Regions from separate parts of the Homo sapiens genome. Here region 2 is linked to region 1. The links come from fine-mapping of genetic effects on gene expression. A gene starts in region 1. The other region holds a variant in brackets. All regions are shown on one strand. Distances are between the middles of the regions.

Region 1 (5,366 bases):
GGAGGACAACCAAAGGGCCCCTCCTGGGCTGTGTCTGGTCCACGATTCTGGGGGTGGTACAGCCACCAGACCCCAACCTCATAGCTGAGCTTTTTGACAAGGAAGGTAGCTACCTGCAGGGGTTCCCACGGGCTGGGGGCGAGAGAGGCAGGGATTCTCTCTTCTCCGACAGAAATATCAGCCAGAAGCGAGCTTGCACAGCTCCTCCAACAGACAACCAGAGATAAAACGTGTCTCAGGGCATCTTGTACTTTCCATGTTCCGTCCCTGATGGTATGGTGACCTATCATTTATCTTGTGGGGCCGGGACAGCCTGGCCTGGCAGTTCCCCACGGGAGTCAGTTTATCAAGCACATCTTTTGTTCGGATAAAGGACTGCTTGGCACACAGCAAATGGGCAAGGCACCACCCCCACCTTGCTCACACCCACCTCCCCCAGCAACAAGGGCAGGGATTTCTATGAGTCTCCCTCCTGACAACCCTACTAGGTAGGGATCATTATTCCCTTTGAGCAGGAGGAAACGGAAGCTCAGAGGATGATACTGAACGGAGTGCCTACTTGTTCCAGGGGCTTCATAATTATTTAGCTCCCACAACTGCGCTGGGGAGTGACTTAGGGTCAGCTGCATTTTACAGCTGAGGAAACTGGTTCAGAGGAGGAACCTGCCTGCCTAAGGCCACACAGCTACAGCTGAGGGCTGGCTTTGGGATTCGAGGCTGGCTAAATCTAGCTCTGGCCAATCTTCCCTTTGATCTCTGCTGCTTTGGGGCATAGGTTGGACTGACACAGCTGTCTCTCTGGGCAGGTGCTGTCCCAAAGCACCTGGTCAAGCCCAAGAGTGAAGTAGGCATGGGAGACTGGTTTCTCCCTTTCCCCTTTGCCCCACTTCCCCAGGGCACCTCTCAGCAAAGCCAAATATGTTGGCGAAAATAAATGAGCAAGAACCGTGTACAAGATCCCTGCCCTTGGCCAGGTGCGGTGGCTCATGCCTGTAATCCCAGCACTTTGGGAGGCCGAGGTGGGTGGATCACAAGGTCAAGAGATTGAGACCATCCTGGCCAACATGGTGAAACCCCGTCTCTACTAAAAATACAAAAATTATCTGGGCGTGGTGGTGGGCACCTGTAGTCCTAGCTACTTGGGAGGCGGAGGCAGGAGAATTGCTTGAACCTGGAGGTGGAGGTTGCAGTGAGCAGAGATCACGCCATTGCACTCCAGCCTGGGTGATAGAGCAGGAGTCTGTCTCACAAGAAAAAAAAAAAAAGATCCCTGACCTTGTGGAGGTCCTGCCAGAACCCGGGGAAGCGGGCAGGATGCAGCAAGGTGAGGATTTTTTTTGAGACAGAGTCTCGGTCTGTCGCCCAGGCTGGAGTACAGTGGTGCAATCTTGGCTCACTGCACCTCCACCTCCCAGGTTGAAGCGATTCTCCCGCCTCAGCCTCCCAAGTAGCTGGGATTACAGGTGTCTGCCATCACATCTGGCTAATTTTTGTATTTTTAGTAGAGAGGGGATTTCACCACGTTGGCCAGGCTGGTCTCGAACTTCTGACCTCAGATAATCTGCCCCCCTCGGCCTCCCAAAGTGCTGGGATTACATGTGTGAGCCACCTGGCCAAGGTGAGGATTTTGAGGTGAGGGATTCAAAGAATCTTAGAAAACAAACGTTGATGCTTTCTTTCTTTTTTGAGACAGGGTCTTGCTCTGTCACCCAGGCTAGAGTGCAGTGGTGAGAACATGGCTCACTGCAGCCTCAGCCTCCTGGGTTCAGGTGATCCTCCCACTTCAGCCTCCTGAGTAGCTGGGAATACAGGCGAGCACCACCATGCCCAGCTAATTAAAACATTTTTTTGTAGAGACGGAGTCTCCCTATGTTGCCCAGGCTGGTCTTGAACTTCTGACTTCAGGTAATCTGTCCCCCTTGGCCTCCCAAGGGGCTGGAATTACAGGTGTGAGCCACCGCGCCCGGCCTGGTGATGCTTTCTACTGAAGAGTCAGTTGATAGGTCTTTCGGGGAGATCTTGTGATGAAGAATCAAAGCATTTGACTGGGGAAAGAGTTCCAGGATAGTCAAGTGATGCTCAGGAAGTCAGTGGAGCCACGTGCTGGTTCCCCATCCCTGCTATAGCAAATTACCACAGACTTAGTGGCTTAAAACAACACAGCTTCATTCTCTGACAGTTCTGGTGGATGAAGCCTGAAATGGGTCTCACAGGGCTAAAATCAAAGTGTCGGGAGGGCTGCGTTCTGTCTGAACGCAGAGAGTTTGTTTCGTCCCCTTTTCCAGTTTCTAGAGGCCCCTGGTATTCCTTGGGCCATGATCTCTCCTTCATCTTCAAGGCCAGCAGGTTAGCGTCTCTCCTGTCTGACCCCTATTCTGTCCTTTCATCTCCTCTCTTAATGCTGCCTCTGTTTTTATATCTTTTCTCTAATTTTACTGCCTCCCTCTTGGAAGGGCCCCTCTGTATACTCTGGGCTCACCCAGATAAACTAGGATAATTTCTCCCATCTCAAATCCTTACGAAATCCCATGTGAAAAGTCCCTTTTGCCACATAGTCACAGTCACGGGTTCTAGGGATTGGGACATGGATGTCTTTAGGGGTGGAGGGCGTCCTTCAGCCTGCCACAGATGGCAAAGTCATGCCATTGTGGCTGCAGCTCCATTGTCCAGGCTGAGTGTGGGGGCGCATGGCGTGGTTCTCATGCCCACCACCTACCCTGACCCTGCGGAGGTGGGCAGGAGGCAGCGATAATCACCACGTGCAGAGGTCCTGCCAGGTGCCCAGCCTCATCATTCCCTAGAAGGCAGGCACCACCACATGCTCCCACACTGTAGATAAGGAAACAGCTTTGAAACAGATTTGAAAGTGTTTGAGGATTTGCCTGGAAGGAGGGCTCCAGAGCCAGGGACTGGGTCCGGGACACCCGGAGACTCTCTGCTTCTTGGAGCTCCGGCAACTGCTTGTCTTTCTCTTCACAGGAGAAGGGGGCCCTGCTGCCGCTGCCGTGGGGCGGGGCGTGGGCGGTGCTGGCTGCAGGAAGGCTCTCCCCTCCCACTTTGTGCTTTCCCTGCAGGCTGCTCCTCTGTCGAGCTGATCACACCCACAGTTGAGCTGCGCTGGCCAGAGATGCCTGCCCACAGCCTGGTGATGAGCAGCCCGGCCCTCCCGGCCTTCCTGCTCTGCAGCACGCTGCTGGTCATCAAGATGTACGTGGTGGCCATCATCACGGGCCAAGTGAGGCTGCGGAAGAAGGTATGTGCCTCCCTGGGGGTCCCCGGCCTGGGTCATACTTGCTTCTCTCCACGTCCTGTCAGGAAAGCCCCGGGATAGGGAAACATGGCCAAGGTGTGTGCAGGGCTGGGAGGTGAGCACCTCTTCCAGCCCCGCCGGGGGGCTTCCTGCCAGTCCCACGTGTCAGCAAGGCCTGCACCTTCTCCTCTCTGGCTTAAGAGCACTTACTCGCTTGCCGTGCCACCGGGCTGAGTTCTTGGCATGGAGAGAGCCAGCGAGTGTCTGTGAGAGAAGCAGGTTCTGGAGGGTGGAGTGTGGGAGCGTGACAGCACAAAGCCTCTGTCTAACCTGGTGGCTTCCCGGCACGGGAGGTCTGATATCTGGGTGGAGTGGGAACCGGCAAAACAGGAGTCCGAGAAACGTTTAAGTGGAAATTCCCAACTCCTGGCAAATGTCACTAACAAGCCCACTGTAGCCTCCAAAGGCCAGCTCCCAGCCGGGCACCGTCGGGGTGCTCAGCGAGGAATTTCCCCACTAATCCGAGCCCCTGAACCAAAACAACATTAACGAGTCCCAGAGCTGGGCCGGGGCAAGTTCCAGTAGCGTCCGTCACACTGGTTGGCGAGTCTGCAAAGTCATAGGCTGAGCTTGTCGGCTGTCCTGGCGGCAGAATGCAGAAAGACCCCAGGCACCTGTTACTTCCTCCCCAGGTATTTTAATAAAGCAATCATTTCCTGAAACTGTCTCTGTCTTCCCCTGTGTCCAGTTCAAAGGCGAGGTGAGGCAAGGCTGGCTCTGGCACTGCATGCGGGTGGATCCTGGGGAGTGAGGATCTTGGCCACAAGCCAGGCTCAGGCCCTGCTGCAGGTACAGGCAGGATTAAAGGCAGGGCAGCTGCCCAAGTGATAGGATGCCCGGAGGCTACAGCACACTGATAGCTTCTGACTTCTCCCTGCCTTGGCTGGTCCTGGGATATGGGATCCGGGCATCAAGTAGAACAGCTGCATTCACTCATTGAATCCTTCCCAGAGGACCGAATGTGGCCCGGAGCTGAGCATGAGATCCCCGCCACAGCCCTGAGGGCAGGGGAGGCGCCATAGTCATCCTGTTTTCTAGGTGAGGAACCTGGGCTCAGAGAGGAGACATCACTTATGAAGGTCACACAGCCCGGTTTGAACTCCAGTGTCCAGCTTCAGAGCCCACATCCTGTCTTGGAGGCGGGGGTTTCTGTTTTGTTTTTTTTTTCTGCTGTCCAGGCTGGAGTGCAGCGGCATGATCTCTGCTTACTGCAACCTCCACCTCCTGGGTTCAAGCAATTCTACTGCCTCAGCCTCCCCGGTAGCTGGCATTACAGACACACACCACCATGCCCTGCTAATTTTTGTATTTTTAGTAGAGATGGGGTTTCACCATGTTGGCCAGGCTGGTCTTGAACCCCTGACCTCAGGTGATCCACCCGCCTCAGCCTCCCAAAGTGTTGGAATTACAGGCGTGAGCCACCGCACCTGGCTGAGGCCTGGGTTCTTACCAGCAGGCCAGCGATTCCTTTTTTTTTTTTTTTTTTAATTATTATTTATTTATTTTAGAGACAGGGTCTTGCTCTGTGGCCCAGGCTGGAGTGCAATTGTGCGATCATAGCTCACTGTAGCCTCGACTTCCTGGGCTCAGGTGATCCTCCCACTTCAGCCTCCCAAGTAGCTGGGACTATAGGTGTGCGTCACTGCTCCTAATTTTTTATGTTTTTGGTAGAGATGGCTTTTGCCATGTTGCCCAGGCTGGTCTCAAACTCCTGGGCTCAAGTGATCCTCCCATCTTGGCCTCCTGGAGTTCTGGGATTACAGGTGTGAGCCACTGTGCCCAGCTGTGATTTCCTTTTAACACGAATTCGGGGAAGGGAGGAGGTGAACCTGTCCCAGAGCCTTTCTGCCTGATTGGCAGGGACACCGCAGAAGGAAACCCCCACTCCTTGGGCTGCTCCTGAGGTGTTCCTCATGACAACGTGGCCCCCTCTTATCTCTGCTCTGGGCGCTAAGTATCATCCAGGAAGGACTTGCTGGAGGTGACAGTCACAGGCCCTGGCTCCTCCACCCACCAGCCTGGGGACCTGGAAAAGTCTGGGAGCTCAGTGTCCTCA
Region 2 (5,366 bases), 21 kb before region 1:
GGCGCCTGGGGACGGGGTAAGTGGTGAGAGGGAGGGCCACGGCTGTCTTGGGTGAACCCCAGGCTCCAGTTGGAGACTCTGCTGTGGCAAGAGGTCCACCCCACCCCCGGGCGCCATCTGGGGACACTCCGGCATCCCATTCCAATGGCTGTTCTGCCAGGGCCTCACCCTGGCTCTTGGTCTTAGGACTGCTGTGTTTGCCTGCCTAGGTGTGCGGGTCAATCTGTGCAGAGCTGGGGAGCAAGTGATCACTGGGAGCAAAGACAGCTTTCAGCCTGGAGGGAGAAGCATTTCTTCCCGCTAGGATAATGGCCAATTCAGAGGCCCTAGACCATGCTGTCCCCAGAGCCTGGGTGCATTGCTGATGACGAGATCCCAGCCGGGGGTCAGGCCTCCCAGGACTGTCAAGCTGGGCTGCTTGAGTCCCTGGCTCCAGGGGTGGGGGTGGGGCTGAATGGCAAGGGAGAGAGCTGGTCCATTCCAGGCTCCAACCTCAGAACCCTCTGGGAGTAAGATTACCCAGCCCTGTGCTCGGGCTGAGCAATCAACTATAGCGCACACGCTCCTTTACTGTGGTTCCGAGATAGTTAATTGAAATCTGGATACTCTGGGTAAAGTCAGAACATCCAGCTGGGCCCAGCATGGGAGATCAGCTTGATGAGTCTCCCGCACCCTATTCTGGGCATCAGCAGAGTCAGTTCTCTGAAGAGTCTTTTTCATATATATCACATAGATAGAGAGATAGGCAGGTTGGTAGGTAGGTAGATAGGTCAATAGGTAGGTAGGTAGGTAGTTAGACATAGGTATCTATCTATCTATCTATCTATCTATCTATCTATCTATCTATCTATCTATCTATCTATCTTACTGTAGTTTAGCACAGACATTGGTTAAGTCATGTCACTCCTCTGAACCTCAATTTTCTCATCTCTAAAATGGGGATATTAGGCCGGGCGAGGTAGCTCATGCCTGTAATCCCAGCACTTTGGGAGGCCAAGGCAGGTGGATCACCTGAGGTCAGGAGTTCAAAACCAGCCTGGCAAACATGGTGAAACCCTGTCTCTACTAAAAAATACAAAAAAAATTAGCCAGGTGTGGTGGCACGCACCTGAAGTCCCAGCTACTCGGGAGGCTGAGGCAGGAGAATTGCTTGAGACTGGGAGCCAGAGGTTGCAGTGAGCCAAGATCACACCATTGCACTCCAGCCTGGGTGACAGAGCAAGACTCTGCCTCTAAAAAATATAAAATAAAATAAAATAAAATAGAGATAATAATAGACCCACCTCCTAGGATTGCTACATGAGGGCAATGAACTGATCTACATAAAGCACCAAGCATAGTGTCTGGCAGGTAAAGTTGGCCAGTAATGTCATCAACATTGTTATATAATAATAATTATTGTCATTAATTTTATTGCCCAACTGGCGTCCCAGCCTGAGCTGAAGCTCTGTCTCTTGGCCACCCTGTCCAGGAGGTATGAGCCTGTTTTCTTGGGCCAGATCTTCTGCTTGGCTTGAAGCCAAAGTGTGACTTCCCAACCTCTGCATGCAGCCCCCTCCCCAGGGTGCTGGTTGGTCTCTCCTCTCAGCTGCTGCTGCAATGTGCTTCACAGTGACAACACACCCACAGCTCCAGTGGCAGTTGATGCATCCTTGTGGCCAGAATCATGCCTGGCAGGACGCATGTGGCAAAGGGCTTGTCTGGGTCGGTGCTATGCTCTCTGTGCCAGGGAAAATCCAGCTCTTGGAGTGGGTGAGAGCAGGGAGGCCTTCATGGTGGTGGAGTTAGGGGATGGGAGAGACAGGGAAGCAATGAGGGGCTTGCACAGAAAATATCGTTTTACCCTAAGTACCCAGATGACAAATGAGACCCAAAATGACCTTTGGCAGGGGCCGTGGCTTCTGGGGACCCCAGCGTTTGACAGAGCAGGTGGCAGAGCCGCAGGACCCAGCTCTAGTGTGTGGCAGTTTGTTGGTTTCATTGCCGTTGCTGGGCCAGACGTGCACTGAGGACCCCGGGATAAAGGGGTTTACTGTGAGGATGCTGGGGCCCAAGACCTCGTGGGCACAGGACCCAGGTGAAGACCCCAGGGCCCGTGAAGAGCCGAAGTGGATTTCACTGTAGGGGCTTCTTGTCATCCCCAGGGGTACACATTCTTGTGGCCGCTCCTGCTGCTGGCAGCCGAGTCCTTGGCCACGAGCCCAGCCTCCTCTG[G/T]GGGGTGGGTCTCAGCCCAGGCCCACATCGGGCTGTTGATTTCATTGGCTGCTGGCTGGCCTCGCCATTGGCTGCTTGCAGCCAGGTGCTCACCCCTGCCCATCAGCTGTGGCCATGGTGGTGCCAGCAGGGAGAGGAGCATGTGACTTGCACGTGAGGAGTAGCCGAAGGCTTCTTCCCTAGGGGACATGTGTCTACCTCGGGGCGATGCGTCTACCTGTGGATGGGGAGGGACCCCTTATTGGGGCCCAGGCAGGTCCGCATTCTGGGCCTTGTCCAGTACACCCTCTGGTTTCCAACCAGCCAACCAGGCTCCTGGGGGACCCACCAACCCTCCCCTTTCTTCTCCGTACTTCTCTCCTCACCTGGTAGACACACATGTCTTCATTTTGGTTCTTACGTTGAGAGACAAACCCATCCTTCCCTCCCTTTCTTCCTTCCTCCCTCCCTCCCTCCCTCCCTCCCTTCCTTCTCTCTCCCCTTCCTTCCTTCCTTTCTTTCTTTCTTTCTTTCTTTCTTTCTTTCTTTCTTTCTTTGTTTCTTTCTTTCTTTCCTTCCTTCCTTCTTTCTTTCTTTCTTTGTTGGTTTCTTTCTTTCTTTGTTTCTTTCCTTCCTTCTTTGTTTGTTTGTTTCTTTGTTTCTTTCTTTCTTTCTTTTTTCTTCCTTTCTTTCTTTCTCTCTGTCTCTCTTTCTCTCTTTCTTTTCTTTCTTTCTTGCACCTAGGTTGGAGTGCAGTGGCATGATCATGGCTCACTGCAGCCTCGACCTCCCAGCCTCAAGTGATCCTCCCTCCTCAGCCTCCTAAGTAGCTAGGACCACAGACATACACCACCATGCCTGGCTATTTTTTTTTTTTTTAACTTTTTGTAGAGACAAGATCTCCCTGTATTGCCCAGGCTGGTCTCAGACTCCTAAGGCTCAAGTGATCCTCCTGCCTCGATCTCCCAAAGTGCTGAGATTACAGGCATGAGCCACTGCACCCAGCCTGAGACAATGCTTTCTCTACCAGTCTCTACCCCATTGCACTAATAGTCAGTGGAAGGCTGCAGACCTTCACACGTGAGTCCCTGGCCCTGGGCCTCAGGCAGGGTTTGCTGGGTGTATGTTTACCCAATAGTTGTGGGAAAGTGGGTGCTGACCTCACCGGGTGCGGAGGACAGGGTGTTAAGCGGCTCCCACAAAACACTCCCTCCTCCTCGGGCTATGTTGGCAGAAGCACATCTAACCCTGGCGACCCAAGGTCATGAGGGGGATGAGTTAACTTCCTTGTGTGTCCTAAGCGGCTGCTGTGTATTTGTTGACTGTCTCAGAGTAAATGTGGTTGGTTTACTCACTTTCTACCCCTTTTAGCTGGTGGGACTGGTTAAAAGCTTGTCCTCTGCATAAAAGCTTTGCCTCTGGGATTAGCCTGGCCTGGTTGAGTCTCAGTTGTTGAAATAACAACAGCAATACCAATAGCAGTGATAGCTTACATGTAACACCAGGTATGATTTCCTACCTGGACTATCTCAGTAATCCTAGGAGGAAGGTCTATTATCATGTCCATTTTAGAGAAGGAAGAAGTGAGGCTCAGTATGGTGCTCAGCTAGGAAGCAGTAGAGCCTGGTGGTAACCAGGCAGGGGCTCAGAGCTTCTCTCCTTCCTGCTCCTTAGCTGATGGGCCATCGTGGGCAGGTTACTTGGCCTCTCCAGGACTCGGATTCCCCTTGTCTGCAAATGGGTCAAGAAAGTTTAATGTGGCTGGGTGCGGTGGCTCACACCTGTAATCCCAGCACTTTGGGAGGCCGAGGTGGGTGGATCATGAGATCAAGAGATCGAGACCATCCTGGCCAACATGGTGAAACCCTGTCTCTACTAAAAATACAAAAATTAGCCAGGTGTGGTGGCGCACGCCTGTAGTCCCAGCTGCTTAGGAGGCTGAGGGAAGAGAATCACTTGAACCTGGGAGGCGGAGGTTGCAGTGAGCCAACATCATACCACTGCACTCCAGCATGGTGACAGAGCCAGACTCTGTCTAAAAAAAAAAAAGGTTTAATGTGGCAGGGTACGCTGATTCACGCCTGTAATCCCTGCACTTTGGGAGGCCAAGGTGGGTGGATCACTTGAGGTGAGAGTTCGAGACTAGCCTGGCCAGCATAGTGAAACGCTGTCTCTCCTAAAAATACAAAAAATTAGCCGGGCGTGGTGGCAGGCACCTGTAATCCCAGCTACTCCGGAGACTGAGGCAGGAGAATCGCTTGAACCCAGGAGGCGGAGGTTTCAGTGAGCTGAGATCACACCACTGTAATCCAGCCTGGGTGACAGAGCAAGACTCCATCTCAGAAAAAAAAAAAAAGAAAAAAGAAAGCTTAATGCATGAAGTGGTTACAGAAAATAAGCACTTTTCAAACAGTGAAACTCAGCCCCTAGTTTGGGATTATTATCTTGGATGGAAAGGGGAGTTTTTTTTGTTTTTGTTTTTGTTTCTTTTTTAACATTTCCCATTTCACAGATGGAGGGAAGAGTGATTTTTGCTGCTCTTTCTGCATTAAGTTAGAGTTTGTAGAGGTGACCTTTAAGACCAGCTTGCTCAAAATCAGCCCGCGACTTGGGCACCTCCCTCAAAGGCAGCTTCATCTTTGTATTGTTTGTTTTGTTTTTGAGATGGGCTCTTGCCATGTTGCCCAGGCTGGAGTGCAGTGGCTATTCACAGGCATGATCATAGCTCACTGCAGCCTCGAGCTTCTGGGTTGGAGCAATCCTCCTGCTTCAGCCTCCCGAGTAGCTGGGACTATAGGCCTGTGCCACCATGGCCGGCTAGCTTTTTGTTTCTTTGTAGAGATGGGGTCTCGAACTCCTGGTCTCAAACAGTCTTTCTGCCTTGGCCTCCCAAAGTGCTGGGATTACAGGTGTGAGCCACTACTGCACCTGGCCCTAGAACACTTTATTATGTAGTAAAAAGTAAATAACTCTCACCCATCTCTTTTTATAGAACTGTGCTGCCCAATATGGCAGCTACAAGCCAGGTGTGATCACCGAGGGCCCAAAATGTGGTGAGTCCAAATTGAGTCCAACTGACACGTGCAGTGAGTGTAAAATCAACACTGGGCCTTGAGACCTAATATGGAAAAAAAAGTAAAATATCTCACTAATAATTTGTCAATATTGGCAAG

Evidence for each region.
Region 2: its variant is fine-mapped to the expression of PTGES in whole blood (INTERVAL, PIP above 0.99).

What each region holds. Positions count from the first base shown.
Region 1 is chr9:129,750,774-129,756,139 of GRCh38, reverse strand. It overlaps PTGES (prostaglandin E synthase), which reads left to right and starts at 3,098. Exons shown (of 3, transcript NM_004878.5): 1 at 3,098-3,253. The coding sequence starts at 3,128.
Region 2 is chr9:129,771,869-129,777,234 of GRCh38, reverse strand. No RefSeq gene overlaps it. Among named protein-coding and RNA genes, the nearest start is that of PTGES, 22 kb to the right of the region's middle. RefSeq lists enhancers at 1-65, 1-211, 1,603-2,169. The variant G/T (reference allele first, on the strand shown) is at 2,215.